Regions from separate parts of the Homo sapiens genome. Here all the other regions are reported to be linked to region 6. The links are microRNA targets in miRTarBase. Many come from high-throughput screens and were not tested one by one. Region 6 holds a microRNA gene; each other region holds the end of a gene's coding sequence.

Evidence for each region. Region 6 holds the annotated microRNA hsa-miR-3671 (AUCAAAUAAGGACUAGUCUGCA, at 2,500-2,521, shown strand). A microRNA usually pairs through its seed, bases 2 to 8, with sites in the 3' UTR of a target mRNA and lowers its output. Matches are read on the target gene's strand: a 7mer-m8 pairs with bases 2 to 8, a 7mer-A1 pairs with bases 2 to 7 and ends in A, and an 8mer does both.
Region 1: miRTarBase lists KCNS2 as a target of hsa-miR-3671. Seed matches in the 3' UTR shown: 7mer-A1 at 3,365-3,371 and 7mer-m8 at 3,823-3,829.
Region 2: miRTarBase lists OR9Q1 as a target of hsa-miR-3671. Seed matches in the 3' UTR shown: 7mer-A1 at 3,225-3,231.
Region 3: the mRNA of NLRP11 is a reported target of hsa-miR-3671. Seed matches in the 3' UTR shown: 7mer-m8 at 565-571.
Region 4: the mRNA of NFATC2IP is a reported target of hsa-miR-3671. Seed matches in the 3' UTR shown: 7mer-m8 at 986-992.
Region 5: the mRNA of CERKL is a reported target of hsa-miR-3671. The part of its 3' UTR that is shown has no 7-base or 8-base seed match.
Region 7: miRTarBase lists MC2R as a target of hsa-miR-3671. Seed matches in the 3' UTR shown: 8mer at 2,875-2,882.

The regions. Positions count from the first base shown.
Region 1 is chr8:98,428,960-98,433,254 of GRCh38, forward strand. KCNS2 (potassium voltage-gated channel modifier subfamily S member 2) reads left to right here. Exons shown (of 2, transcript NM_020697.4): 2 at 1-3,894. The coding sequence ends at 454. It also overlaps a transcript of STK3 not described here. Among named protein-coding and RNA genes, the nearest start is that of KCNS2, 4.1 kb to the left of the region's middle.
Region 2 is chr11:58,179,499-58,183,834 of GRCh38, reverse strand. OR9Q1 (olfactory receptor family 9 subfamily Q member 1) reads right to left here. Exons shown (of 3, transcript NM_001005212.4): 3 at 2,219-4,336. The coding sequence ends at 3,458. Among named protein-coding and RNA genes, the nearest start is that of OR9Q2, 7.4 kb to the left of the region's middle.
Region 3 is chr19:55,781,775-55,786,110 of GRCh38, reverse strand. NLRP11 (NLR family pyrin domain containing 11) reads left to right here. Exons shown (of 10, transcript NM_001394894.2): 10 at 240-712. The coding sequence ends at 486. Among named protein-coding and RNA genes, the nearest start is that of RFPL4AL1, 15 kb to the right of the region's middle.
Region 4 is chr16:28,963,009-28,967,334 of GRCh38, reverse strand. It overlaps NFATC2IP (nuclear factor of activated T cells 2 interacting protein), which reads right to left. Exons shown (of 8, transcript NM_032815.4): 8 at 243-3,630. The coding sequence ends at 3,472. NFATC2IP-AS1 (NFATC2IP antisense RNA 1) reads left to right here and starts at 891. Exons shown (of 2, transcript NR_186408.1): 1 at 891-919.
Region 5 is chr2:181,534,716-181,539,051 of GRCh38, reverse strand. It overlaps CERKL (CERK like autophagy regulator), which reads left to right. Exons shown (of 13, transcript NM_201548.5): 13 at 808-2,380. The coding sequence ends at 868. ITGA4 (integrin subunit alpha 4) reads right to left here. Exons shown (of 28, transcript NM_000885.6): 27 at 4,117-4,236; 28 at 112-3,620. The coding sequence ends at 3,525. Among named protein-coding and RNA genes, the nearest start is that of ITGA4, 79 kb to the right of the region's middle.
Region 6 is chr1:65,055,947-65,060,282 of GRCh38, reverse strand. It overlaps MIR3671 (microRNA 3671), which reads left to right and starts at 2,441; the gene lies at 2,441-2,528. MIR101-1 (microRNA 101-1) reads left to right here and starts at 1,775; the gene lies at 1,775-1,849. It also overlaps a transcript of JAK1 not described here.
Region 7 is chr18:13,880,882-13,885,217 of GRCh38, forward strand. It overlaps MC2R (melanocortin 2 receptor), which reads right to left. Exons shown (of 2, transcript NM_000529.2): 2 at 1,163-4,336. The coding sequence ends at 3,744. Among named protein-coding and RNA genes, the nearest start is that of MC2R, 32 kb to the right of the region's middle.

The DNA of each region.
Region 1 (4,295 bases), not on the chromosome of region 6:
AGAAGTAGGGCTGCTCTTGCTCTACCTCTCCGTGGGGATTTCCATCTTCTCCGTGGTGGCCTACACCATTGAAAAGGAGGAGAACGAGGGCCTGGCCACCATCCCTGCCTGCTGGTGGTGGGCTACCGTCAGTATGACCACAGTGGGGTACGGGGATGTGGTCCCAGGGACCACGGCAGGAAAGCTGACTGCCTCTGCCTGCATCTTGGCAGGCATCCTCGTGGTGGTCCTGCCCATCACCTTGATCTTCAATAAGTTCTCCCACTTTTACCGGCGCCAAAAGCAACTTGAGAGTGCCATGCGCAGCTGTGACTTTGGAGATGGAATGAAGGAGGTCCCTTCGGTCAATTTAAGGGACTATTATGCCCATAAAGTTAAATCCCTTATGGCAAGCCTGACGAACATGAGCAGGAGCTCACCAAGTGAACTCAGTTTAAATGATTCCCTACGTTAGCCGGGAGGACTTGTCACCCTCCACCCCACATTGCTGAGCTGCCTCTTGTGCCTCTGGCACAGCCCAGGCACCTTATGGTTATGGTGTAAGGAGTATGCCCAGCCCCTGAGGGGAGAGATGCATGGGATATGCACCCAGGTTTCTTTTACAGTTTTTAGAATCGTTTTTAGAGGGTGGTGTGTCTGACACCATGCCTTTGCACCTTTCCATGAAATGACACTCACTGGTCTTTGCATCGTGGGCATAAAATGTTCACCTTTTTGCCAGATGAGTACACCCAGAATGCTAATTTTTCTGTCCATCGTGTACGCTATTCTAGTGCTTGTGGCCCAGTACTGTCTATGAGTTGTCGTGCTCCTGTTTCTGAGGTTGTCGTGTGAGTTCTGTACAAAAAGCCCCCACAAGTCGTCCAGTAGAAATGCATCTATGAGGTCAGCAAGGATATGATGAGATTTTGCTCACAGTCATGTGAAAACAAAATCTCAGCTCTTTATCCATTGCTTTCACTTAGTTTTAGTACCAAAACAAAGAGAATGCAAAGTTAAGCAGACTTGACCAATGCAAGTCTCTAAGTTGTTTTTATAAATGATCTGTAGTTCCGTGGCTTGCATGGGTGCACCAATCATCTTTAGAACGATGTACACTGATGTTCATCTCATAAATGTCACTCTTTAGAGAATGTTACTTAGTTAAACATGCAGTGAAGATCGAATTTTTTTCCCAAGAACAGATGTGTTAGGGAGAGGGGCTTCAGCTAAATAGTCCAAACCCTAGGGTGCTTAAAGCCAAGTTAGTGCAGGCTGAGCCCCTTGGTTCACAGTCAAGCCTCCTTGTTTCCTAGGGTGACTGTAGAGAAATGTATTTCCGGATGAGGTTTCTGATCTAGGCCATTTGACCAAACTTTGCTGTGTCTAAGATATTAGCATGTTTTTGAAATATTTATTTTTTAAGATGTTTAGGAGTAAGGTCGTGTTGTCTTCCTCAACTAAAAAGAAGTTTACTGTTGTATCGTCTCCCTGAGGTGAACGTTGTTGGGTTGCTAGCAAGGGCAGTAGCTTAAATACTTTTGTTGCCTACTCTGAAAGCTCATCAAATGAGAGCCCTTTTATTTCCAAGCAGAATTTAGTCAGATAATTTTGCTTCTAGGATATAGTATGTTGTATATGATGCTGTGATTGCCCTGGAGTTCCTGCCATGACATGGAAACCTGGTGGTATGGAAGCATGTACTCAAAATATAGACGTGCACGATGGTGGTGTGGCTTACCCAGGATGGAAACACTGCAGTTCTTACTTGCATTCCCACTGCCTTTCATGGGGGGTGACTGGGTAGAGGCCAGGAGAAAGGAAAGAGTTGTAAAATAAAAAACTGCTAGTTCATAAAATGTCATAAAAAATTGTAAACTTGAAAAGCTTAATGCTATTCAAAAGACCTTCAAGCTTCCAAACTTGTATTGAAGGGAGACGACTGTTTCCTCCTCCAAAATGCTCCTGCTCCTCTTGTTCGGTTAACCAGCACATAACATTGTGATGGGGAACCTGGGTTCCTCTATAAGATAATTCTTCTCCATCATCTTTAAGGTAATCTGATGGTTTTCCAGGTGGCTTTCATTATTGTTCCATCTTTGAAAAGGCAATAGAACCCAGGGGTCTGAGCATGGAGCTATCCAGGGTTTTCATCCAAAGGTTGGGCCTCTTCTTAAGAGGTCCTTTTGTGTTTCAGTTGATTGAAGATGATACTTACCTCATTGGAGGTGTGGCAAGGATCTTATCAGAAGGCTTTGTGTTCTTGTAGTTGTCATGGCTACTACAGTGTGGGTGATTTATTGAATGAATTCACTAGCCACTTGTGTCCTGGAGCCCCCAGTTCAAATCTTTCCATTGGACTGGAGGCTTGTGGGAGGCTGGGAGGTGGCTGTCTCCTAGTGTCTACATCCGTGTCTCTGAAGCATCAGGAAAAGTGAGATGACTTAGAGGCAACTGGGCACTGAATCAGAGGAGCAGAGTTATTTTTCAGAATTTGCACATGGAACACTTAGATTTGGCTGGTGCTTCCAGCCCTGGAAGGCATAACATTTACGGACTCATCCCCAGCTGCACTGAAGGCAGGTGGTGGTACAGACTTATGAGGACGGATCAGTTTGCCAAGGCTGATGGTATTGGGTCACTGAGCCTGGTATCCATGGCCGCTGACCAGGAAGCTTATGCAAAGTGGAAGCAAGGAACAAGGCAGAATAACTCAGTCACTTTCATGAAGATTTTTCTAAACAAGAAGGCTTACCACCAAAAAAGAGGTACCCTAGTGGTTACCCTTTGCAGATGTGAAAGCTGGAAAACTTGACTTTTCTTTTTGGTAATGACTTGCATTTATCTGGTGCCTTTCGTTGGAGGAATCCCAACGTGCTTTAGAGACTATCTTTTTAACATCTCTTGTACATACATATATACTTATATAAAATATTATCTTGCCCAACTGGACCTTTACTCACTTCTGAGCATGAGAATGTCCCAATAGCATTGAGTTTTTCAAGTGGTGGTTTCAGATAAGTGGGAGAAAGAACAACCCGGCTGGCTTAAACCCTGGAGCTAATTCCCACAAGGAATGTAGACTGAATGGTGACCCAGGGAGAAATAATCTTCCTCTCCCCTAAAGTCTCACTAAGGTTTGAAGTTTACAGGTGCTCTCCACTGGGTCTTTGATCGACCTTGCTAGATAACATCTAACCAGCAGTTTCTTTTAGTCCCTGAAGCTAACCAGGGAGAGTCAGGTTAATTTTCTGTAAAAATATGAGGTGACATCTTTGGCAACCAGGCTGTCAGACTGACCTGTAAACCTCCTTTAGGGGGACAGAGTAGAAACTGGAGATGACTTGTTTCCAGCTGTGAGCTTGAGAGAAGTGTCACTCCCAGCATTTGAAGGTTATTGTTTTCAATGCCAGTGGGCCAAATATATGGGCCAGGCTTTGATATCTGTGATGTGCATTTTGGAAGTGCTGGGTTGGGAAGTGACACGTCTGTTGCACAAATGCATATTGGTTATAGGTTTGTGTTTTCTGCCAAACCCCCACATTTCTCGGGTTTGTGAGTGAGGAAGGGCATGTTGTAATGCCAAGCTGATTTGTAGCTCGTAAGGTAGTAATTGGTATTTAACATTTGCATTTGTTATTTCTACTTATCTTAGCACTCAAATAATTGAACTACCTGCTAATTCTTGCCGCATTTCAAAGAAAATAAGTTGTTATGCACTTTGGGATAGTGGTGATCTGTACAGGCTGTGTGTTAGCTACTTGAAGGCGTAACTGGTATTTCTTGTGTGTTTTAACAGCATGACTTCTTACAGAGCTGTAATTTTTAAAATTGAGGATGCCATATTTGAGATGTCAGTTTTAACACTCATTAACACACTACTGTGCAAGCATTGACACAGGCTGCACTGAACCATTATGTCTGATTGCTGCACTTTCATCTCTGTGCCTCGATTCGGGAATGGGCAGTAATACTGACACACTCGGGACTCCAGCCTCAAAAAGTGTGCAGATTAAATAGACAAAAATTATTTGCATCTCTTGGAGGCATTTCAATTACATATGCAGTAGCAAACAAGGAGGGCATTCAAAGTTGGGGACCAGATTTCCTGAGAAAGCCTGGGTGTTTTTTTTGTTTGTTTGTTTGTTTGTTTTTGCAATTTGGGGAAGGAGAAGCTGTTGTTTATTCTTGGTAAAGGCGGAGTCCTAGTTTTCTAGGATCTCGAACCACTAGCCTCCTTGGTAGAAGGAATGGTCCTGTATTCTTGTAACTCTTGTGAAACAGACACCCCTGCAGGATTTTCCTCCTGCATGCTT
Region 2 (4,336 bases), not on the chromosome of region 6:
TATCATATCCTATAGTCTCCAAGAAAAGGTCAGGCCAACTAATTTAAAGCAAAGGAAATTTAAACAAAAAATAGGGATTTAAGATGGACTCAGGTCGTTCTTGGCTACTCAAAAATCGTGCTATATTGCTCATATCCACTGCAACCAAAATAAAGTAATATCTGCCAACTCGCACTTACCAGGTAAGAGCTGTGGCTTTTCTTCTCCCCATCTTGTACCAAGTAGTGTGGTCCCCAGAATATCTCATTCATGTTTGGGGCAGAAAATGGTGGGAGGCCCTCCTGAAGCCCACTAGAAAGGTCATGCTACCAACAAGTCCCTTCTTTGACAGCTCCTGAGGACCTGGCCCCTGATAGTGAAGGTCTGCTTGAAGGGCACCCTGTGTTGGCAGACACTTGAGAAAGGTAATGGGAGGAGCTGGCCTGAGCGCCTGGTGTGAGACCAGGCAGGATGCAGATGGATGCTACCATTGCTATTCCCTTGTGAGCTGGATGTCCAAGGTTTCTCTTCGGAAGACCTTGTTATTCTCCTTTTAGGTACTATAGCCACATTCAAAACATCCCAGTAGATGGTGTTTCCTGGTTTGAGTAACCTGGATTTCCCTTAAGCAGATTTCCAAAAGCAGATTTTTTCAAGCTTTATTGAGGTATAATTGCTATGCAAAAAAAATACAGTTATTTAATATACATTTTGGTGAGTTTGGACATACACATATCATATATCTGTCACCTCCAAAAATTTTCTAATGTTCTTTTGTGGGTTTTCTTTTTTGTTGTTTTCTGGGTTTGTGATTTTTGGTTTGGTTGCTTGATTGGTCTTTTGGTGGTAAGACTATTTAGCATGAGATCTATCCTTTTAACATGTTTTAAAGTATTCAATATATTGTTAACTATAGATATTATGTTGTACAACAGGTGGCCAGAACTTATTCATCTTGCATAACTGAAACTTTATGCTGATTGAACAATTCCCCTATTTCTTCCTCTCCCCAGCTGAGGCAATCACCATGCAACTCTCTGCTTCTATGAGCTTGACTTAGGTTGGTGAAAAGGTATTGTGGTTTTGCCATTGAAAGTAATGGCAAAAACTGCAATTCCTTTTGCACCAGCATAATATTTTTGGACACCTCATATATAAATCATGCAATATTTGTCCTTCTGTGACTTGCTTATTTAACTTAGCATAACGTCCTCTAGGTTAATCCATGTTGTCAAAAATGGTAGGATTTCCATTCCAGAATTAAAATAACTGAACAAAAAGAACCACAGGTTTTTTATTTGGATGAGTTCAACACAAGGTATAGCAGAATGTAAGGAAATATTCACACCTATTTACAATCAGGTAACTTCCCTATTGTCAACTTTTCTTAAAAATGTCATAATTGAACCCCGACTCATCTTCCATACCTAAATGGAAAGCATTTTTTAACTTTTCCTGAGCTCTATTTATAGACTAAAAAGTAGATGATGTTCCGTATACAACATGGGGTTTCATGACCACTAGTTCCTACAGCCTTTTCACTTAGCCCTTCCTTCTTGAACATAAATCTGCAGATACTTGTTTAGAATTTAATCAGAAGGAGGCATTCATTTTTTTTCTTCTACCTGGCAACTTATTCTCTTAGTAGCCCCTTTCCATTCATCGTGTACTTCCTGACTTCTGGTAGATTCTAAGACAGCAAATAATTCCTTAGTATACTGCTTTTATTCACACAGACACAACCAGGAGGGAATTTCATATCACTGATTCAAGCTTTCCAACATTTCTTTAACATTTTTTACACAACCTGTAACACAATTGACACATATACTATTTATTAATCATCCCCCTTAGTAAAGCTATAAATTTTAAGCCTGGGTTTTCACAACCAGACAAAACACTATTAAAGGGATAAAATATTTCTTGTGAAAATTACAATATGTACTTTAAAATATTCTGTCTTCTAGAATAAATATAATGTCTTTAAAGATTCAGATGTGTTTTATTTTACTATAAGCCACCTTCCATTGAATATCCTTTGGCTACCTGCATGCTGAGTCTCCCACCTTTCACATATCTTCTTCCCATTTAAAGTCTTGTAACTGGAATTCTGTGTTTCACACAGCATTTTTGTCTGGCTGAGTTTAAAATCATCCTAGGTTTGTAAGATACCGTCACCCTCTCCCCACCTTTCCCTTTCCACAATTGTTTATATCAATCACATACAGGGTACCCTGGATTTTTTGTTGTTGTTGTTTTGGTTTTGGATTTTTTTTTTTTTTTTTTTTTTTAGTAATCCAGGAGACAGGAAAAGAAGTTTGAGTTCCAGGTATAAAAATTTGTTTAAATGAAAAAAAATTAATAGATGGGGCCTGCTCTCTTCCAGTGCCTTGGGTTTGATTGAGACAAGTCCCCTGTGATTAGAGAAGTAAAGATTAAGAACAGACAGATTTTGTGAGGCTTTGGATGCAGGCTGAGCTGCTGCAGAGTGCAGGGACCCAGGATAGGCGAGGACCACCCTCCTGCCTATCGCCATGTGGAATGCAGCAATGTTCTGCCTCCCTGAAGGAAAAAGCTTTCAGAACACAGAGAGTCAATGTCTATGATACAGACACTGAAGACGCCATTATGGGCAGTGGGAATGGTATAACTTTGCTAAGTGGATTTTTAGTCATGCCATATGACGAGAGAGAACTGTAATAGGTAGGAAGAAAAAGAACAGGGCATATATCCAGAGGTGATAGCAATTGACAGACATGTTATTGTAGGCATTGTTAAAAGTTTGTGTGAGGCCTTCTTGAGAACTACTACCAGAATATTAAGGCATACCTTGAGTAGGGTCAGCTTTGCTAATTGGATCATCAAACGACCATAGTTTGATCATTAAAAATAAATGTAATCTAAATATTGAATCCTAATTGATGATATAATTCTGAAGTGCATAGAAGTAAAGGGTACTAATGCTGATGTCCGGAACTCACCTTGAAATGAATCAAAAAAAGGTGGTTTGATGAGTGAATTGATTGATGAATAAACTCACGGATAGATTACATCTATGTAACCAAGTAAAGACAGCAAATATTAGCAATTACACAATCTCAGTACTGAGTATAGGAAACTTCCTACATATTATTTTTAACATTTCTATATGATGAAAATCTTTCATTAAAAATTTTGCAAAAAAAATTACTCTTATAATCACAGACAGGTGAAGTGTGCCATATTTGGATTGCACAGGCTTTAATTTCAAATCCTTTTGTCACTTGTCCTGGGAATCAAAACTCCCACTCCAATCTCTTTTCAGGTTGACTTTTCCTTGTCTTCCTTCCTCTCCCTGGAGCTAAAAGTTCTGGTTCTTTTTTATACCTAGTACCATAATATATTCATTTAAACATTGAGCATGCTATAAATAATGAGCGTCCAGAATTCTGACACTACAGAGTAGGTGGTTCTCGGGATTTTCCAAGTTTGGAGATGGTTAGGACAACTTGGCTCTATTGAGAATTTTTCTCAGGGCCTCCTTCACTTCCTTGTTCCTCAGGCTGTAGATGAGGGGATTCAACATGGGGATGACCTCTGTGTAAAGCACAGACACTACCCGATTCTTCTCCGAAGACTGATCTGAGTTACCTCTCAAGTACATGAAGATGAGGGTACCAAAGAAGAGTGACACAGCAGTGAGGTGGGAGGTGCAGGTGGAGAAGGTCTTGGCCTGGCTTCCAGCAGGGATCCCCATGATGGCCACGATGATAAACAGGTAGGACACCAAGATCACCACCATGGAAGCAGGGATGACAAAAATGGCAAACATAATAATCAGCACTTCTTGAGTGTAGCTCTCCCCACAGGTCAACTTTAACAGAGGAGGGAGGTCACAGAAAATAAAGTCAATCTCACTGGTTCCACAGAAGGAGAGAGTGAAGGCTGAGACTGTCCGCACCAAGGCACTGATGAGACCAGCAACGTAAGCCCCAGCCACAAGACTCAAGCGGGCCTGCTGTGTCAGGATGGTGACATAAAGCAGGGGCTGGCACACAGCCAAGTAGCGGTCATAGGCCATGAGGGCCAAGAGGTAGCAGTCGATGGAACCAAAGAAGGTGAACAGAAAGAACTGAGCAGCACAGCGTGTGTAAGATAAAGCTGCCCCATGCTCCAGCAGCACTGCCAGCATCTGGGGGACAGTGATAGATGAGTAGCAGACGTCCATGAAAGCGAGGTGACTCAGAAGGAAATACATTGGAGCGTGGAGCTGGTGATCCATGAGGATCAGAATAATCATCTCTAAGTTCCCCAATACGGTGATGAGATACATAAATAAAAACAAGAGGAAGAGAGGGAGTGCCCATTCAGGATATTC
Region 3 (4,336 bases), not on the chromosome of region 6:
CTACTAATATTACTTCAAACAGTTCTCCCAGTGGAAATCTTGTCTTACATTCTAATATTTAATGGAGAAATCGCTATCTCACGGTTTTCAGTCTGGAACAGATTTTTGTTTCCTCAGAGATGGCTTGAGATACTCCCAAGAATACCCAAAGGATGCCATATGGGGAATTAGTCATTGATGCAACAAAGCTGAGACCTCACATGTAGCATTAACGGCGTTCTCTCTCTGTTTTCCTTCAGGCTTCCATTAACTGGCCTGAACACACAAACCCAGCAGTTGCTGATGACTGTAAAGGAAAGAAAACCCAGTTTGATCTTTCTGTCTGAAACTTGGTCTTTAAAGGAAGGCAGAGAAATTGGTGTGACACCTGCTTCTCAGCCAGGTTCAATAATACCTAATTCTAATTTGGATTACATGTTTTTCAAATTTCCCAGAATGTCTGCAGCCATGAGAACGTCAAATACAGCATCTAGGCAACCCCTTTGATCATGTTGTACGTAAACAGTATTTATTATAAATTACTACCGTGACTGGGATGCAAGAGAATTAGGACTATAATTTTCCTATTTGATGTGTGTGTGTGTGTGTGTGTGTGTGTGTGTGTGTGTGTGTGTGTGACCTTGATCCAGTCAACCACTTCAAATTCCTACACTGTCTCAAGAGTATTAAAAGGATTATATGAAGTAATAAAGGATAAAATGCATTGGAAAAAGCTGTGAAGCATGATTGTTTCATCAGTGGGCACGGTGGAGTAACACTAAAGAAACTATGATCCTTTCATGGTTTGTTTCTTGTTTTTGTTTTTCTGGGTTTTGTTTTTGTTTTTGTTTTTGTTTTTGTTTTGGTCTAGGGAGAGTTGTTAGAAGGTGTCCCTAGGAATCCTTCGAAATGAAATCCTCATCTCACCTTCCCTCCTGACTTCGTATTCCTGCTGCACCATGTTCTTCCCGGATCTACCTAACACCGTAACTGGCATTCATTTCCGTATCTCCCCTGCTCTTAGCCAGCTCCGCTCACAAACTTGTGTGTGTTCCATGGGATGAAGGGTGACTTCTCTAAGCTGTGGAGAAATGTCAGATATGTGTGGCCTCAGAAAAAGCGTCTCCTTTTCACCTTCTTTCAGAAGAGGGAGTTGAACTGGGCATCCTCTGATAATGTTTCCAACCCTGACACTGTATTTACAATGCCCCATTGCTAAGCATCTGGTTGCTGTACCTAATAGGCCTCCATAGGTGAGAGGATACCTACTCAAGGTGGGTAGGTTTTAGGGTCTTTACGTGCTGAAAAAAAAATTTTTTTTTTTTTGTTTGAGATGGAGTCTCGCTCTGCTGCCCAGGCTGGAGTGCAGTGGTGTGATCTCAGCTCACTGCAGCCTTCTGCCTCCCGGGTTCAAGTGATTCTCCTGCCTCAGCCTCCTGAGTAGCTGGGACTACAGGCGCCCACCACCATGCCCAGCTAATTTTTGTATTTTTAGTGGAAATGGGGTTTCACCATGTTGGCCAGGGTGGTCTGGATCGCCTGACCTCAAGTGATCCTTGGCTCAGTTTCTAAGGAGAACTGTCCTAATTTCTCCCTTTGACAGTGTTTCTAGGACACAGGGGTATACAGTAAACCTGAGCTTTCTGGTCCCACATTGAGCCAGGAGCTCAAGCCAAGCACCTGGCTTAATGTGCCACTGTCTTGGTCCAGCCGGGGCATGGATGGTGTGGCTCAGAGCCAGGCAGGGGTAAACCTATTTTGCCCAATGCTATTGCTCACCCTCAGCTCTGAGCTCTTCTCCTGTTTGAGATCTTTATGTTCTGCCTTTTGCTCTAAATGTACAGAAGCACTCACTGGGGTGGTCTTGGCAACAAGCTCTGTACAGGGATGTGTCAGTCACCATAAGCTGGGGCACCTGAGTCCTTAGTTAGAGACAGGCTCCTGGACCTGATCTCCCCACAGAGATGTCACGATCATGTCATCTGTAGTATCTCTCAGTGACATTGCCTCAGTGAGTCTGGGGCTTCTCTGATGAGAATATTTGATTCCCAATGCAAAACCTCCTCAGCCACTTCTGATAAATGCAACTTCTGGACATGATGTGAAGATTCTGATGATTAGCAGAATAACTGGCTAAAAGTGTTTTCTATGTTCCTTTTCAAAACTCTGATTTCAGAATCAAGTCATAATCAGCTGTGGAAAGAAACCTTGAAGGTGAATCAAAGGATCTTACTGTAGTTTCAACTGGGCTTGTTCTTTGATTTTTCTGACATGTTTCTAAAATAAGATAATTTTTTTTTGAGACAGGATCTCACTCTGTCGCCCAGGCTGGCATGCAGTGGCACGATCACAACTCACTGCAGCCTCGACTTCCTGAGCTCAAGTGATTCTCCCACCTCAACCTCCCCAGTAGCTGAGACCACAGATGCATGCAACCATACCCCCCTAATTTTTTGTACTTTTAGTAGAGAAGGGGTCTCACCATATTGCCTAGGCTGGTCTTGAGTGATCCGTCCAACTCAGCCTCTGAAAGTGCTGGGATTACAGGTGTGAGCCACTGCACCCGGCCAGGCTATCACAATTTAAGGAAACCTCTTGTTTTCCCATGACTGAAAATTCTGAAGTCATTGAAGCCATCTTCCCACCTCAATATTGCATATCTTCAATGTCCACATACTCCATGGCATATTGTAATTTGTCATCCAGGTTACCTATATAGCCCTGCCTCCTGTGCCTCTCCTTGGAGAAACAGACTTCCCTTCTTTATTCTAGATAATTTGCACTGAGAGGAAGCATTCCTACAAATAGACAAAAGCCCTATTTAGAGCATATAGAGCAATAATATCAGAATTTTAAAATTCTGTTTAAAATTAATGGAGTGATCTCACTGCAAGTTTCAAGGTAGGGAATTTTAAAAGTAGTCTTTGGTAAAACAAAAATTAAACTGGGAAATAACTGTCAAAATCAGCCTTTGTGGAAAATTTGAATCTAATAATTTACAACCTCCAGGGGAACCGTGAGTGAAGGAAGAAGCTGCTTAATTTCAGGAAGAGAGTTGTGGCTTTTTTTTTTTTTTTTTTTTTGTGGAATCTTGTTCTATCACCAGGCCAGAGTGCAGTGGCATGATCTCGACTCACTGCAAGCCCCTTCTTCCGGGTTCAAGCGATTCTCCTGCCTCAGCCTCCCGAGTAGCTGGGATTACAGGCACCCACCACCACGCCCAGCTAATTTTTGTATCTTTAGTGGAGATGGGGTTTCACCATGTTGGCCAGGGTGGTCTGGATCTCCTGACCTGGTGATCCGCCCGTTTCGGCCTCCTAAAGCGCGGGGATTACAGGCGTGAGCCACTGCACCCAGCTGAGTTGTGGTAATTTGACTCACCCACCTACTCTTCCCCACTCTGCAGCTTGATGGCTGCTGAGAACATGGAGTCCCTCATTCCCAGGCCAGCACGCTGATGCCACAGGATGAAGAATCTTTGTTCTCAAAGAATTGTGGTTGTGTGCCTCCATCTATCTTAGTGGTTCCTTGAAGGGTTGGCTCAAGGGCTTGCCTTTATTTCACCCTTTTTAGATCTACACAGACTGAAGCTGATTTATTGGGGGGTGCCAGTGTCATTAAAAGCACTTAAAGACAAATACACTTGCTGAAGTTGCCTGGGTGAGGGATAACAGGGAAAACAGATGACAGAATGAAAAGCCTATTAAGGAAGAGTCTGGGGGGAGAATTACATGAGATAGTAAGGGCTTTGAATAGCACTGAGGTATACCAAGGATTGAGTTCAATCATACATGTCCATGCAAGATTATAAAAATCTGAGAAACCCTATGTTTTACCTCTGATGATCCCGAGGCTCCATGCAAGCAGGAAATGAAGGCTGAAATGAGAGTTGTAAAAATCCTGGCTAGTGAACCTGGGAGGTGGAGGTTGCAGTGAGCCGAGATCGCGCCACTGCCCTCCAGCCTGGGCGACAGAGCTAGACTCCGTCTAAAAAAAAAAAAAAAAATCAAAATCCTGGCTAAGCTCCCTAGAGGGATCCCATGGCAAAGAGCTTGAGAGAATTTTGGGTTTGCGTTCAGGCATGTTTTAAAAATCTCCATCAAATTGTTAGTAGACCAGAAGGCAGAGACTTCAGTGGCCACACAGGAGAAAGTGAAACCTTTACACAGTAGTTTACAAAGGTTCAAACAAAACAAAAAATGAAAACAAAAACAGAAGACTCCAACTCACAACCAGCAGCAACAAGAAAGCCTGCTCAGGGGTGAGAATTTGATGTCCAGGGTTTGCCACACACAGTGTCCACTTTTTCTTACCAAAACAATGAGGCACACACACAAGACAGTATAATAGTCGTAAG
Region 4 (4,326 bases), not on the chromosome of region 6:
AGCGATCCTCCCACGTCAGCCTCCCAGGGTGCTAGGTAGATTCCAGGTGTGTGCCCCCATGCCTGGCCACTGTTTTTATTCTGAGTGTCTCTGTGCCTCGCTAAAAACCATGGGTTCTAGTACCACAGAAGGAGGAAGAATGGATGTGAAGGAATAAGGATCTTATTCCTGTCTCTGTCACAAGGATCTTAGTGGGGGTCACATGAGGGCCACAAAGACAAAAATCCTCCAGTATACACAAGTTGAACATATTGCCATTTATTTTGTTGAGGTTAAACATATAATTTTAACGTATTCAAACTTATTAATGGACATTTAAAAAGCTGAAAAAGTGAAGAGCTGTACCATGTCGTGGATTATTTTAATGTCATAAAATTCAAAGGAATGCCACATTTCAATAAAACATTTTAAGAAGTTGACATACTTTTATTAGAATCATGCAAATATTAGAGAAAGGTTAATGGCTTTTTTTTTAGTAGACATTACTGAGAAAACTGGCTCATTATATCACAAAAAGTGAAACTTGGATCTCATATATAAAGGTGTATTTCACTGAATTTTTTTTTTTTTTTTTGAGACAGAGTTTCCACTCTTGTCGCCCAGGCTGGAGTGCAATGGCGCGATCTTGGCTCACTGCAACCTCTGCCTCCTGGGTTCAAGCGATTCTCCTGCCTCAGCCTCCCGAAGTAACTGGGATTACAGGCGCCTGCCACCACACCTAGCTCATTTTTTTTTTTTTTTTTTTTTGTATTTTCAGTAGAGACAAGGTTTCAGTCTTGAATTCCTAACCTCCGGTGATCCACCTGCCTCAGCCTCCCAAAGTTCTGGGATTACAGGCATGAGAAACCATGCCCAGCCGATTTCTCTCATTTTTTTTTTTTTTTTTTTTTAAGAGACAAGGTCTCGCTGTGTTGCCCAGGCTGGTCTCAAACTCCTGGGCTCAAGCAATCCTCCTGCCTTGGCCTCCTGAGTACAAAAGTGCATCTCAAATAGTTTTAAAATGATGTGCAATATTTAGCAACCAGTACAGCCCAGCATCAACCAATTAGAAGAAGTGTCTGACTGTTGAGAACAGATGCAGCCAAGGTGTCACCCCGGTGTGTACCAGCTGGACTTCAGCACTGTGTAGTGTTCTCAATATGAAAGGAAAAGCTGAACAGCTAACAGGAGAAGATGTAAAATATCTTAACAACTCTATTAAATAAGCAATCAAAAAGCAACCAACTGCAGAACAAGATAATTCATACTGTCTACATTAAAATTAAAATTTTCTTTTTTTTTTGAGACAAAGTCTCTCTGTCACTCAGGCTGATGTGCAGTGGCACTGTCTCTGTTCACTGCAGCCTCCACCTCCCGGGTTCAAGTGATTCTCCTGCCTCTGCCTCCTGAGTAGCTGGGATTACAAGCATGCGCCACTGCACCCAGCTAATTTTTGTATTTTTAGTAGAGATGGGATTTCACCAAGTTGGTCAGGGTGGTCTTGAACTCCTGGCCTCAAGTGATCCACCCACCCCGGCCACCGAAAGTGCTGGGATTACAGACCTGAGCCATCACGCCTAGCCAAAATTAAGAATTTCTGTTCAGTGACGGATACCCCTAGATACAAAGAAAATTTCAATTTTTTCCCCTTTAAATCTTTTTTTTGAGTGGAGCCTTGCTCTGTCGCCAGGCTGGAGTGCAGTGGTGGAACCTTGGCTCACTGCAATCTCCGCCTCCTGGGTTTAAGCGATTCCCCTGCCTCAGCCTCCAGAGTAGCTGGGACTACAGGTGTGCGCCACCATGCCCAGCTAATTTTTTGTATTTTAGTAGAGACGGGGTTTCACCATGTTGGCCAGGAGGGTCTCAATCTCCTGCCCTCATGATCTGCCCGCCTTGGCCTCCCAAAGCCCCCTTTTTAATTTTTTTTTGTAGAGACGAGGTCTCGCTATGTTGCCCAGGCTAGTCTCGAACTCCTGGGCTGCAGCGATCCTTCTGCCTGGGCCTCCCAAAGTGCTGGGATTACCAGTGAACCTCCATACCCAGCCCAAATATGCATTCTTGGAATTATCTGCAATTGCCCAAGAATGTACAAGCAACTCCTGAGAATAAACCAAAAAAGATAAGAAACTCCATGAGAAAATGGGCAATGCACAGGAAGGGAAACCAGAAAGGCTAAGTGAAAAAATTCCCCAAATTAATGCTGATCAGATGAATGTATGTTAAAGCACTGCACCACTATCTACCCATGAGACTGGCAAAAATTAGGTAGTCTGGCAATACAAGTGCTGGCAAGGATAAGGAGAAAAGGGCGGCCTCAAGTAGGAGGGTCAGTCACCGTTCTAAAGAAAATCTGGAAAACCAAAGAGAAACTGACCTCTGTGACCTATAGGCCCATCCTGGGTACACATGCCACACAAGCACAGAAGGGAACACACGAAAGGATGTTTATCGTGGCCTGTATCCGGTGCCAAGGGGTCAGGGGCACCCAGGTGTCCCCCACTTTAGGCAATGTGTGTAAACTGCAATTGACATTGTGGAGTGCCACATGGCAGGTCAAAGCAATACTGCATTTCTAGAAGAGTCAATGGGGCTAGATCTTAGCACACATTGAGTGAAAACAGCATAAGACCTATTGCACAATAGCACTATGTACAGTAAAAGCACATATTCACACATGAAACGTGGTATTTTACAAATACATTCATATTCAAAGACATGGGTGCTTATGGGAGAGGATGGTGTAAAGAAAGGGAAAAAAGCCATAAAACCAGAGAATCTTTGCATGGGACTGTATTCCTGAGATCCCAAACCAAAGGGATGAATGTGCTGTTATGCCTTAAATGTGTGCACCAGGAAATGCAAACTAGAAAGGGTGGCTCTGAAGGGTCCTCAGGTGAGGAAGACCCCCAGGGCTGAGAATCCACCACCTTCATCCTTCAAAAGAGTACCTCAGTTGTCTGCTTACGCTTCAGCCAGCATGTGTGAGCTTGGTCATTTCCTGCAAGCCAGGCAACCACACCAGTGTATAAGCCTCAAGCAAATGTCACTCCCAAGCCCCAAATGGGACTAAGGCCTCTGCTGGGCTAGGCGTGGTGTAAATCCCAGGCCTGGAAGCTCCTACCCAACCCTCATTTGTTTCAACTCACTTTCAATATGTGCATAGTTTCATAAAGCAGACATTTCCATGAGGAAAAGAGGATGGTGGTGAAAGGGGAGGGGTGAAGGGACATCTCCAAGTCACAGAGGCTGCAAAACTCAGCATGACTTGTGGACGGAGCCACAGGCCACCCAGGGCAACAACACCCACATAACTCACCAAGTGGTTAACGGCTCTAAACCAGGGTCAACAGGAGAGGGGACAAAAGTCACTCCTTGATTTTGCTGCAGCTTAAAGATAAGTTCTACCTCAGCTTATGCTAGCCCTTATGGGGCAAAAAAGGGAAAGTCATTCTCCCCAAGTCCAGGCTGGGCCGTCAAACAGGGAGTGGGGTGTCAGCCCCAGACCTCAATGAGGTCCCCAGATTCCATGCCCAGGTCAGCTGGCAGCTCCCTGCCTGAAAGCTTTGTCCCATCAAAGAAGAAGGAGAGCTTCCGTCCCGACAGTCCCATGGCCTCCTCATAGTGGGACATGAGGGTCTTTAGAGGGGAATCCTGGATGGAGACAAAAGAAAATGGACGTCAGAACATGAAAGGGGGCGGGGATCCCGTAGGGATAGACGAGGAACTTGGGACAGGGAGGATGGCGGCAGGGGCGGAAACAATAAAGTCAGGGCCCCATGCGGGGAAAGGAGAGAGGACAAAGAAGCCAGCCCAGCCAGGCTCCTCTCTGGGAGCTGGGACGAATCCTGTCATCCCTCTGGGCTCCAAGTTGCTCAGGTAGAGGACGGGGGCCACGAGCCCAAGGCTTAGGGGTATAGGCTCTAAGTCAGGCAAGTCCTCCTAGCCTCAGCCTCCTTCCCTATGAAACAGAAGTGTGTACCAATGACTAAGAGAGCCCAGATTCTAGAGTGAGGATGAGTCGAGCTGGAGGCCAGGCTCTCCCACCTATTAGATATGTGACCTTAGAAAAATGTTACAGGTTATGTTCCCCAGAGAAGACACCTTGTGGTCTTAACCCCTGTTAAGTGTGAATGTGATGTGATTTGGAGACGGGGCCTTTGCAGATGCAATCAAGTTGAGGTTGTACTGGATTGGGACGAGTGCTAATGCCGTGGGACTGGTAGACAACTCACTGCAACCTCTGCCTCCTGGGTTCAAGCAATTCTCCTGCCTCAGCCTCCTGAGTAGCTGCAACTACAGGCACAGGCCACCACACCCAGCTAAGTTTTTGTATTTTTGGTAGAGACA
Region 5 (4,336 bases), not on the chromosome of region 6:
CATAAATCTAATATTACAACGAAAGCTCTCTTCTCTGAACTATCAAAGCAGGCAGTTGGTTAGTTTTTAAAAAATCAGTAAATCAGGGAAGCATAAAGAGACATGCACAAATTTCAATAAATAAAAAGCAACTTTACATTTATTCAACTGTTATGTAGACCCAAGGCATTTTCTTTGGTTATGCGTGTCTACATTGGCTTTCTAATTTATTGTTGTGCATAAACTACAGATAATGTCTACAACTTCCATTTTGGATTTTTAAAAATGGATCAAGATCTTAAATCTTTTAGTGGAGCCATCTGAATAGTAAAGTGTTAGATTTTTATCCTTCCATCTTAGTTTCCTCTCACTCATAATTACTGTAACATGTTTTGTTCAGTAATTTGCTTTTATTAGGCCTTTACAGAGCATTCAACTTCCCTTGGGAACAATTTTACATAGCAACTGGTATAAACAGGTTTAGGAACCTGCAAACGCATTCTTGGTAGGCATTGTGACACTCAGTGGTTAGAAGAAGCATGCAGGGGTGCCCACTAGACATGGGTGTTCTAGAGGCATAACTGACTGTTTTACAGAGGTAATGGAGAGCATTGGACAATCAAGGAAGTCAGTTAAGGAGGTTTTAGAGCAATTATTGTTGTTGATGATTTATCAATCAGACCTTCTCAGTTTTCTAGATTACAGCTCTGTTGGGAATGCTGTGTTTGTTATCAATTTGTATTTGGCATTGGCATTGTGTACCATACTTATTAGGTGTATGTGAAAAACAACAAAATAAGTTGATGAAATAATGTATTTTCTTTACAGATTGCATCCAAGACTTATCAGTCTTTATGGAGGAAGCATGGAAGAAATGATTCCAAAGTAACATGTAATTGTTTCTAAAAGAAATGTACAAACTAGAATTTTAATATAAAGAAATGTGGCCATGCTTTAAACCTGTGGTCCCCACCCTTTTTGGGACCAGTTTCATGGAAGACAATTTTTCCGTGGATGGGGGAATGGTTTCAGGATGAACTGTTCCACCTCAGATCATCAGGCATTAGATTCTCTTGAGGAACATGGCACTCTAGATCCCTCACATACCAGTTCACCATATGGTTCGCACTTCTATGAGAATCTAATGCTGCTGCTGATCTGACAGGGGGAGGAACTCAGTAATGCTCCATTGCTCTAACCTCCTGCTGTGTGGCCAAACGGATATCCTAATAGAAATTGATGTTACTAACAATTAGCCTCTAGGGCTTTAAAAGTCAAGATGAAATATCAATTCAAATTCTGTTTTTAGATATCAATTCAAATTCTTTTTTTTACAATGTGTTTATTGGACACACAAAAAAACTTTGCAACCATCATAATACATCAATATTTAACCTAGATAATTCTGAAATAATTTGGATTCTTTCATTTTTCAGGATTTGAGCTCATCAATTATGTTAAATTTCCTATATTCTGTTACAAATATAATACAGATTTCATAAGTCTGCCTTGATTCACTGCTCCCTAATCCAGAGCAGTTAAATTTCAAAATCACATAGTTATATAGCCTACCTGCCAAAAAAGAATAACCCATCCCTGTCTTCTTAAAGTGGTAGGGTTTTAAAATTCATGATACAAGTAACAAAGTAAGTTGATAACAAATACTATTTTGAACTGGGCAAAATCTAGCCCAATATGTAATTGTGTTCCCCTTGTATCTGAGAGGCCTGTGTTGGACAACCATAGTACTCTGCTTTCACTGTGCTCAGATAACCTGAAATATATAGTTGTTTCTGAGTAGTTCTGAGTAGGAAAGAACCAAATGTAAATTTCCTTAGAGACCATCCTGGAGAAGACAGTTCTAAATCGGGGCTTGATTTTTCATCTATGATCCTAGATGTTCTCCTGAAAGAATGACTAGCCTTTTTATAACGATACAAAGTTTTTTAAAAATACATAAATGTCATAAAGTTTATTCCTGTGTATACACACTCTGGGTTCAGGAGGTTTTGTGCTTACATTTCACTACTCAAATGCCTTCGCAAATCTCAGAACATTCCTCACCATCACTGCAGGCCTGTGAACAGATAACTTTCATCAATTAGGATGGCTGGCTAGTGGCAGGGACTTCATATAAAGAAATCTTTCCCAGAATTGTTTTTCCACATTGCCTTCTAATTTGATCACTCCCTATAACAGATGTTCAAAATTCGGCCACAGCTCTCTTATGAAGGCAGAGTCAGATAAAATGATATTCTGCAATTATCTAGATCATAAGCATAAAATAAATATTACAAAAATGATTGTATTTAAAGAAATTTTTTAAAATCCAGAAAGTCATTTAAAATAGAACCTCATATAGTATGAACAAACTATAAAAATATTTTACATTTCATGAAAATTTTGCTGTCGTCTCATTTATATTCACTGTATACAAATTGAATCAGTATCTTTCAGCTAAATTTATGAATTTAAATTTATGAATTTTGTTTCTTCGTTTCCATGTAAGGTAACACTTATACTTGTAAAGGGTAACAAAGAATTACATCCAAGGAAATAGTTGTGTGATAGTCAATATTTTACATAGTACATAATACATATGAAGTATAGGCCCCCTAGTCTTTGCACAGCTTTGATTTTAAAGTTATTAGTGAGGTATGGTTTCTGTATTTTCTAAATCAGCGTGTATCAGGTAAAGTGCAACACTCACAATCTTTTGTTTCAGAATATAACAAAAGATTTGAAGATTACTCCTGGGTATGCTTGATAAAGGTGTGTTATAGGAAGAATAGATAGGAAGAATGGTAAATATATACCTACATAAAAACACATGTATATATACAGAAAGAAAGATGGTGAAATCCATAATTATAAAAAAATAATTATCCAGAAGTAATTTCACTAAGCTCAAACCAGTGTACATGTTCAGTCTGAAGTTTGCCAGTTTGGCCTATAATACTATAATATTCATAGTCTGCTGAAAAAAAATGGTTGTTGGAACACAGCCCGTAGGAAATGTATTATAAATAAAGGGCTTTAAAGTGATAATGGTCCACTCGTTAGAAAATTTGGGAACAGCTCTCTAAAAAATTATATTTTTAAAGAACATATTTTGAACAAGTATCAAAGATGTATTTGAAATGAACCTCTGCCCACCCAGTGGGGTTCATTTTACTGAGGCAAGCACATATGGTAAGTAGTATTTCAAGTCTAAGACTTCTCCAGTATAATTTAACTCAGTTATACTTTCATTTCAAGATATCTTCAAGGGCTTACTTTTCTTGAATAAATTGAATGCTTTAGTGTTTCTCTACCCATTTAAAAGCTGAGAGATTATCTTTGGCTGTATTATTACCTTTGCAGTTCTTCTATCTCAAAGAGTAATCATTGCTGAGATTTTCCCCTTGCATGAAGACATAATATGTCACAAGATCATGAGTAAAAGAAGTCCAAACAAAATTCATTTTTTCTTGTAAACAGTGTCTTTTAAATTTCTTTACTACAACCTGAGTCTGTTTTCCATTCTCTCAATTTGAAAGAAGTCCTTAATCATCATTGCTTTTACTGTTGATATAACTCCAACTGTCTCTTCTGTTTTCTTCTTGTAGGATAGATTTGTATTGTCTTTTAAAGAAGCCAGCCTGAAAATAGCATAACATAATCACTAGTGTATAGTTATGAACACTCTCTTATCTACTATACTCATTTCTAATATCTAAGCAGTTAACACCAATATTTCTTAAACTGCATCCCTTGTAACATCAGTCATAAAGGTTTAACAGAGGTAATCAGTAAAAATTAGTGGGGACATACTGGGTTAAAGAAACATTTTTGTTTTTAATGCAGAAATTCTCAGTGATACACACCACATTCTCTCCAAAATTGACATTCCGTGTAATTTGCAATCTTTTCCAAATGGTTTTTTAAAAGGAACGTCTGTCTTTCAAAACAAATTAAGAATGCATATTTTTCTAGAAAGACTTTGGTGTTGAAGAGAAATGTGAGATCAGTACTGAGCAACATAAAAAGTTAACATTCAAATAGTGAAATATTTAAATCTAATAACTTGGAAGTCAAATTGGCTTTGAGAAAATGTCATTTTTAGTAGACTAATGTTGGTAATTGTTAAATGCTTACCTTCCACATAACATATGAGATCAATAGAAGTACAATAAGTCCAAGTAGCAAGCTACTTGAAATAATCACTATGGTGAAATAACGTTTGGGTCTTTGATGATGTAGTCCTTCCAGTAGAACCTACGTGAGTTAAGAAAAATAAAACTCAAAAACCAAAAAAAAAAATCAGTTTAAAACGTTGCTTATATTTCCTTTAAAGCCCTGCCATAATCCCCAGTAG
Region 6 (4,336 bases):
CTTTTTCGTGGAACAGCTATCTAAAATTTTACTCTAAAATAATCACAGTATCTTTGTTCACGTAGCAGATGTTTATAATTCGGGTAAAAATGTGCAACTATTTCCAAGAACCTTAGGTTATGGGATCCAACTGTGATTTTTTTTTTTTCTTTAATCTTCGTTGCCCTCTCGTGTTTCAACTCTGTATTACAGTTGGCTAAGACCTAGATGATGACCTCCTTAATTTTTAGATATTTTTGCATTTTAGGCAATGTTGTTTTTAATTTGTGTGTAGGTGGATTGTTTCATTGGATGTTGCTTTTCTGAAGATAAGGTCATTTTCATAGTACGTAAAGTTAATAGTTGAGTTAGATTCACTGTACTTTTATTTTCTGACTTCTGCTGATCTAAAGAATTGATTCATCTACCTGACTTATTTGAAGTACAGTGCTAATATCTAATATGCATATAATGAGTCTTTGAAATTGAGCAAATGCCTAATGAAAACATAATTATTTTTCAAATATCTGTCAAGTTCCACTCATATTGAAATAACTTGAAACCTTATGACATGGAAAAAACCCAAGTGAATCATGGTTTTAATAAGTTGATATTCTGATGCCTGAATTCCAATTTCAGAATCTTTTGTACTTTTTATTAAAAGGAAGAATCATCCCTAAAATGACTTCAGAGTACGTCTCAAAGGTACAGATAATTTAAAAGCAAGTGATGTGTATATGTTATTATTACTTTTTAAAAAGGTATTCTGAAGGTTGTCAGTATCACCATAGGTATAGAATTGACATAAACTATAGTGAAAAATATCAATGTTACTAATTTGAGTACATTCTTAGCACTCAGAGCAAGAGGAATGAAAGTCATTTTTGCTAATGTGCATTTTTCTTCTTAATTATAAAGCCCCACTAGCTTCTGCTTCATGATCTCAGTTACTGAGAAAACTAAAACAAAAAGTAAATGTTTTTAGAAATCCTTTTGTTTGTGTAAACTGAATATCCAGTTGATGGAGTTGGACAGCTAGGGTAGGGTAGAGAAAACAAAGCACTGTGTTCACTCATTTGACATGGTTCTGGACATGGGTTCGCCATAACTTAGCAATATATGATCTCTGGCAAATCACCTAAGTTTTTTTTTTTTTTTTCTGCCTATAAAATGGGGTAATAATATCTAATCTATTTCCAGAATCCTTTTTTGATGAATTAATGAATAATTCATTGCCAGCCCCATAGCGTCTTGTGAAAACCAAATGAGAAAACATATAGAGCAGTTTTGAATGTTTGGCAGATATGAAGTATTATTGTCATGTTTGGTTATGAGCACTTTGAAGACAGGAATCATGTCTTAGTTATCTTTATTTCCTGAACATCTAGAAGAGGGCTTTAGAACGTAGTAGTTCCTCGGTATATATATGAAAAATCAATGATTGAGGTCAGGGAGGCACAGTCAGTGAATCCATGCATGGAAGAGATAAGCTGTGAAATATGCTGGAAGCTTACTGCATATTTGATGTATTAGAGTGAAAACCTAATCATGCAGTTGTTCATCCTCATTAATATGGATAAGTCATGTGTTCATCTTTCATTCTAATTTAATTCAACTGGGCCTTTTAATATTTCAGCCTCACCACTTGCTGGGCTCTGATCCTTCTTTTTCTTCTGCCTCCTCACGTCTCCAACCAGAAGGTGATCTTTTAGTCCTTCACTTCATGGGGAGCCTTCAGAGAGAGTAATGCAGCCACCAGAAAGGATGCCGTTGACCGACACAGTGACTGACAGGCTGCCCTGGCTCAGTTATCACAGTGCTGATGCTGTCTATTCTAAAGGTACAGTACTGTGATAACTGAAGGATGGCAGCCATCTTACCTTCCATCAGAGGAGCCTCACCGTACCCAGGAAGAAAGAAGGTGAAAGAGGAATGTGAAACAGGTGGCTGGGACCCAGAAACCCTCTTACCCTGCACCTCTGTCATACTTCTCCCGGGGCATAGGGAGAGTTATTCTGCTTCTCTTTGCCTTGTTTTGTAACATGGGGTAGTTGTTGGTGCAGCCATGTTGTGCTGAGTGAACATATATTAAGATCTTTGGAACCTTTAGGAGACTGAAAATAGGTAAGTATGAATTAGTATTTCTGGAATGGTATTCAGAGAACTTCGTACCATTTTTATAAATGTGAAAGGTAACCTAATTAGAACAGCTTGGCACTTGTCAGTACACTACTAGATTTCAAAATCAGATTCTACTTACAGGGAGAAAAAAAAAGCCCAATATGTTGAACAGTATTGAAATTGTTGCATAAATAAAAGTCCATCATTGTAGACCAGCTTACTGAAGTGAAGAAAGAAAAAAAGTATATCTTTGTCTTGAAGGAGTAGATAGTGACATGTCATGTTTCTTTCAGGATATTTAGGATCTGGCCTAATTCAAAAGAATATTTACTGAATGCCTATGTTATTGCTGCTGCTGTCACATTTACATGAAAATAAAATGTAAATTATTTTATTTCTATCAAATAAGGACTAGTCTGCAGTGATATCTGGCACATATCGATTTCAGGAATACGAAGCTGTAAACACCAAGCCAGCATCACGTGCATGAAAGACTAGGAAATTTTTTTTTTGTTGCCCACACGGGAGTGCAGTGGCATGATCATAGCTTACTTCAACCTTGATCTCCCAGGCTCAAGCAATCCTCCCACCTCAACCTCCCGAGTCTGAGACTACAGGCTCAGGCCACCCACCTGCAAATTTTTAGTAGAGACAGGAGTTCACTATGTTGCCAAGGCTGGTCTTGACCTCCTGAGCTTAATTGATTCTCCCACCTCAGCCTCCCAAAGTGCTGGGATTACAGGCATGAGCCACTATACCCAGCCAGGATTAGGAAATTTAACAGCACACATCTTCAACCTCCATCTTACTCTAGAGAGTACTGCTGGGGGTGAAAGGTGGTTATTGGAGAACCCAGGATTCTGCCAATGCCAATCTCTGCCAATTATCCCTCTTCCCTGTAGACTCCTAAGGACACTGTACACATGTAACAATAGCAAATAAGAAACAAAGTGCATGACTTGATTATGTGTTAGATCTTAGATCACAGTACTGTGCAAGGAAGGCTCAGGTAATTTCATGGAACGTGTTTTAGGCTCAGAGCCTAATCGGGTATATTACCTCATCCTAGGCTCATGTCTGTATCTGGGAGCCTGTGGATGTCTGACTGGTGTAGGAACCCAAAGCAGTGACCCATATGCTTGAGCAAAGAGAACAGAGATGGCTGAGGTTAGGCTGTAATTTGAACCTACCTACCACAGAGAGAAGAGGGGCCAGGGAGAGAAAAACCATTTGTGACTTTTTTTTTTTTTTTTTTTTTTAAAGAAAGAGTCTCAGTCTGCGGTCAGGCTGGAGTGCAGTAGCTCAGTCTTGGTTCACTGCAACCTCTGCCTCCCGGGGTCAAGTGATCCTTATGCCTCAGCCTGCCGAGTAGCTGGGATTACAGGTGTGCACCACCATGCCCATGTAATTTTGTATTTTTGGTAGAGATGGTGTTTCACCATGTTGCCCAAACTGGTTTCAAACTCCTGTCCTCAAGTGATTCTCCTACCCTCAGCCTCCCAAAGTGCTGAGATTACAGGCATTGAGCCACTGCACCCGGCCTCGTGTGACTTTTTAACATACTGTGAACCTTACCTACTATCAGCCCTGCCAACTGCATGTCTTAGATATGGGTCAGGTGTATTATCAGGTCCTCCACTGGGACACAATGGGGAAGAAAGGGAACTGAAAGGGAGTAGGCCTCGTACAGAGAGGTTCTTTCTTATCCTTCATTGTGCCAGTCCTCAGACATTGATGGTCACTGTGTTCCTTTGCTGGTGATTGCAGTTCCCTTTAGTGTCTCTTCCCTCTGCTCTACCCAAAGAGGAACCATTCTTAGTAGTGATCCCTTGAGCCACACTTGGTTGGCCCAGAACTGTTATTTTTTCAGACACATTGACCACATTATAGCCCAGTACCTTCACATGTCCTCATAGATCCACAATTTCTCTAAGCTATATAAGCTACACTACGTTTTTGATTAATTAGAGAGAGGGGTCTCCCCAGTTATTATGCTACCACTCCTGAAATTCTTTGGAGTTTTCTTAAAAGGAATTTCTGACAGAAACTCTGGAAGAACTTTTAGGAAGGGAAAGTTAGGGATTGGTGAATCCTCAAGTAATTTGAAACACTCCTTATGTTTAGTGTTTGAGCAGGTGGAAAAAAGTGCTTCAAGAAGTTATGTGTTGTGCAATCATTGGCCTTGGTGAAGATTTCACCACCTTCCCTGATCTTCCTGTTTTCCCCGTTACTAGTT
Region 7 (4,336 bases), not on the chromosome of region 6:
CCTGGGCACTACCGCAGGGTCTGCATAGAGCTTGCTCCTGCTGGCACCCAAAGCAGCTGGCTGGATCCTGCACTCACTTAATCACGTGCTCCCTTCCACAGGGGGTTGAGCGCTGTGGGCCGAGTAAATGTGGAACCCCCATTGCAAATTCGACAAAGTGGTTGAGAAAAATCCTGCATCACTTCTGTAGTACCTAGAGGTCTCCTGCAGTCCCTAGAGGCCCCAGCAGTTCCTAGAGGCCCCCAGCAGTTCCTAGAGGCCCCCAGCAGTTCATAGAGGTCCCAGCAGTTCCCAGAGACCCCCAGCAGTTCCTACAGGCCCCAGCAGTTCTTTGCCATGTGGGGTTACCCAGCATATTCACTTATTTCATCAAGTCAGAAAGCAGAGGCTCTCTAACATGTCTGCTAGCAAGATTATGTTTTTTTTTCTTTTAGTAACAGGGTCTCTGAGTAGTCTAGAGCACATGCCACCATAACCAGCTAACTTATTTTTTATTTTTTGTAGAGATGAGGTCTCCCTATGTTGCCCAGTCTGGTCTTGAACTCCTAGGCTCAAGCAATCCTCCCACCTTGGCCTCCCAAAGCACTGAGATTACAAATGTGAGCTCCCATGCCTGGCCAAGACAGGGTTTTAGATAATGGACTGTAATCATGAGAGCAACCTCACATCACATTTGCCACATTCCATGGGTTAGAAGCAAGTCACGGTCCTATCCATACTTCAGGGGGAGGGGTTCTGAACACCACCTTAGAGTCTGCCTGCCGCAGAAGTTACTATCTCTGAACTTCAGCTTTTTCACCTAAAAACATGAGGCCAATAATACACCTGCCCTTAGGGTAGTCGTGAGGATTAATGCATGTAGAGCTCTTTGAACAATACCTGGCTTGTAGCAACTGCTCCGTAATAGATAGGTACTATTATTATTGCTGTTATTATTTGTATTATTATTACTAGATATCTTGCTACAGCCACATAAACATCAGCAACTCTGACCACGTTTCAGAATTCACTGACTGGTTTGCTCGTGCTTCTCAGGGACTCCTAACCCATGCTCTTCTCACCATAGCTCAACACATGTGTGGCTGCAGGGGCAGCTGCGGTGTTTGCTGAACTTCTCTTGTCTGTCCATGACCTGGTGGGAAAATGAGGAGAGGAAGAGGAAACATCCTTCCTTTTTTATTAGACAGGGCTCAGAATTACTATCAGCTTGAGTACACATCCTGAACATTTTCAGCTATCTGGTCCAAGGCTAGGTCATCGATAAAGCTGAACACTCACAGTATCCACACAGCAGTTTAAAAATTGGGTAATTTGATAAAAGAATTAAGTCCTCATGGGAAAAGTCTGAAGCTTGTTGATCTTCCTCACACAAATATGTGCAGTTTGGTGGTGCTTTCATTTGGAATTCTATATGAAGTTAGAGGTAGAAAAACGTGAGTTTTCTCAGTAACTATGAGCCCTGAAGCTTCTGTTCTGATTGGAATATAGCAGAAGACCTAGAATTGAAAATGTCTGGAATTGCAAGTTCTCTGAATTAGCACTCAGACTTCATTTTTGTTTCATCCACCATTAGACTAGCCATCTTCATTTTGTTTCTTAGATTAACTGCAACAAATCAAAGGCAGTGAGAGGTGAAGTTTCTTGGTGATTTTCCTTCTGACAACAGTCACATGCACAGCAGAGAGCTTGAGAGTGATTAGGAGACAGCAAAGCTGTTGACAAAGGCAGAATTTTATAGGAAGAGCAGTTTGGGACTATTTATGATACAGGTTAAGTGGCATTGCTTACCTCTGTGGTATCACAGAGCATTGCAGCATCAAAAAAAGGTTACCTCTTATTGAGAATACGCACTTTAATCACATAAAATATGTTATACATTACTTTTTCAATGGTAGAAATAACACTTTTAAAAATTAGTTCTAGGGTTGTGCTTTAGATTTCATGAAAAATTAACTTATATATATCTCATATATTAATTAATACAGGTTAGTATTAGAGTAACATAGTTCATTTGGCAGGGGAAGGATCAAACAGGGAAGGATTTCTACAGAACAGAGGACAAGAAGGTGCACCTTTCACCTCCATCTGTGGGACAGGCCATGTGAAAGCACGCCTGCCACTGTCCTCACTTGACTCCAGCTGCCTTGCCTCCTTTGCTTCTGAAGTTCCTGTCCCTGCCACTTCTAATATCAAACCCATCACCAAATGGTCTGTCCTGTGTGTGGCTGTCTTCTCCCCTCAGCAGCTCTGGGAAATTCTCCTGAGGGCAAAGCATTGCCTGTTCTGGAAGATACCATCCATCCTGCAGATCCTGAGCCTGGTGGCCTCTGAAGCCCCACTGCTCTCCTCTGTCCCTTTCACCTTTCACCCCATTCAAGTCACCCTCCAACTTAGTGGGGACTTACAATCAGGATGTGCTTCTCCTTTAAGCTGATTTTTAGCTATTAAAAATGAATGAACTTGCAAATTATGTTTCTTTTATTCCTACTGGGGTTGCCACTCTTCCATTGCTGGCATCTTGGCTGATGGGAGGATGACATTTCCCAGTGACTGGGTCTGCTTTCACATTCATCTGCAGAATGAGGTGGTGTTTGCCTCCCTCAGGTCTTTGACTTGGGGCTATAATAACAGCACCATTGCTTGATGTCTTGCTTTGGTTTTGGTTTTCCCCATAGTCCAAAAGCATGGGGAAAATACACACACACACACACACACACACACACACACACACACACACACACACACACTCTCTCTCTCTCTCTCTCTCTCTCTCTCTGTCTGTCTCTGTCTCTCTCTCTTTATTTCTTAAAATACATGTTGGGGCTCTTTTCTTGTACTTCTACATTGTAACACACATAGTTTGGTTACAGCTTCTTCAAATAGTGACAATTTTCATCTGGCCTTTATGTATTCCCACATGGGAACTAAATGGATTAAATTTTCATTTCTTCCTTTGAAATGTATGCTCATAAAGCATGAGGAAATGTAACAGGAAAGGGTTTTAAGGCCAGTGGGATACTGAGTGAGCAAAGAAGACTAACAGAGAAGGTCCATTTATCATTGGAAACTCGAAGCTCGTTATTTGACATTTATAGTTTATACTCAGCCTACTTTCTGAAACTGAGGTGGCATCAATACATCAGACTAACAGGGAGAAAGAGGAGGGTGGAGATTCCACATGGCTGTGGGAGACAGACAAATTCAGCTGCAGCAATGCATTCCTTCCAATTTATTATTGGCTTACAGAGACCCTACATCTTCTGCCTGGAGTCGCATGTCCAGGTACTTAACTTCTGGAAATTGGCTGCAATGGCCTCCACCTGGAAAGGCCACCTCAGAACTGGCTTGTTAGATGTCCACAGGAAAGCAAGTCTTTGCCTTAGCCCAAAGCCCTTGAATTTTTATTGCTGTTTTACTAGATTGGTGCAAAAGTAATTGCAATTTTTGGTCATTGAAAGTAATGGCAAAAACCTTAATTACTTTTGTACCTACCTAATACTTTGTATTCTATCCTTCTTTTACTACATCGTTTTATCTGTCCAGTCACAAAGTTAAGAGGTTGCCCCTACAATAAGACTGTTCACATAGAACCTAGCTATTAGAAACACTAGCTGGTGGGATCATCCTTGCATCCATTAGGGAAGGAAGGCCAGTGAGGAGCACTGGCATTTGTTGGAATGTTACACTATTCTGGCACTTGGCAACGTTATTCCCATGGATTCTAAAACCAGGGATCAGCCATTCTACCAGTACCTGCTGCAGAAGATCATCTTTTTGAATGCGTCCCTGAGCTCTGGGCTCCGGAAGGCATATATGAAGGGGTCAATGACGGCATTGCACATGATCAACATGCCGTTCACCTGGAAGAGAGACATGTAGCAGGCGCAGTAGGGGTTACTTGGGCAGAATGTCATCAAGAGGACATGAAGCACAAAGGGGGCCCAGCAGAAGATGAAGACCCCGAGCAGGATGGTCAGTGTGATGGCCCCTTTCATGTTGGCTCTGGGGAGGGTGGAGATCTTCCTGGTGTGGGATCGAGCCAGCAGGAACATGTGCACATAGAGGCACAGGATGAAGACCAGCATCAGCGGGAACAGCGACGTGAAGGTGATCACTGTGGGCACATGATGGGAGAAGATCACCATGGTGATGCCAGTCCCCGTGCAGAACGTCCAGATGACCGTAAGCACCACCACAGTGCGGCGCATGGTCACGATGCTGTGGTACCGCAGTGCGTGGAAGATGGTGATGTAGCGGTCCGCAGCAATCACAGACAGGCTGAAGATGGAGCCAAGCAGGGAGAGGACAAACAGGGAGTCGATGATGTCATCGGCTG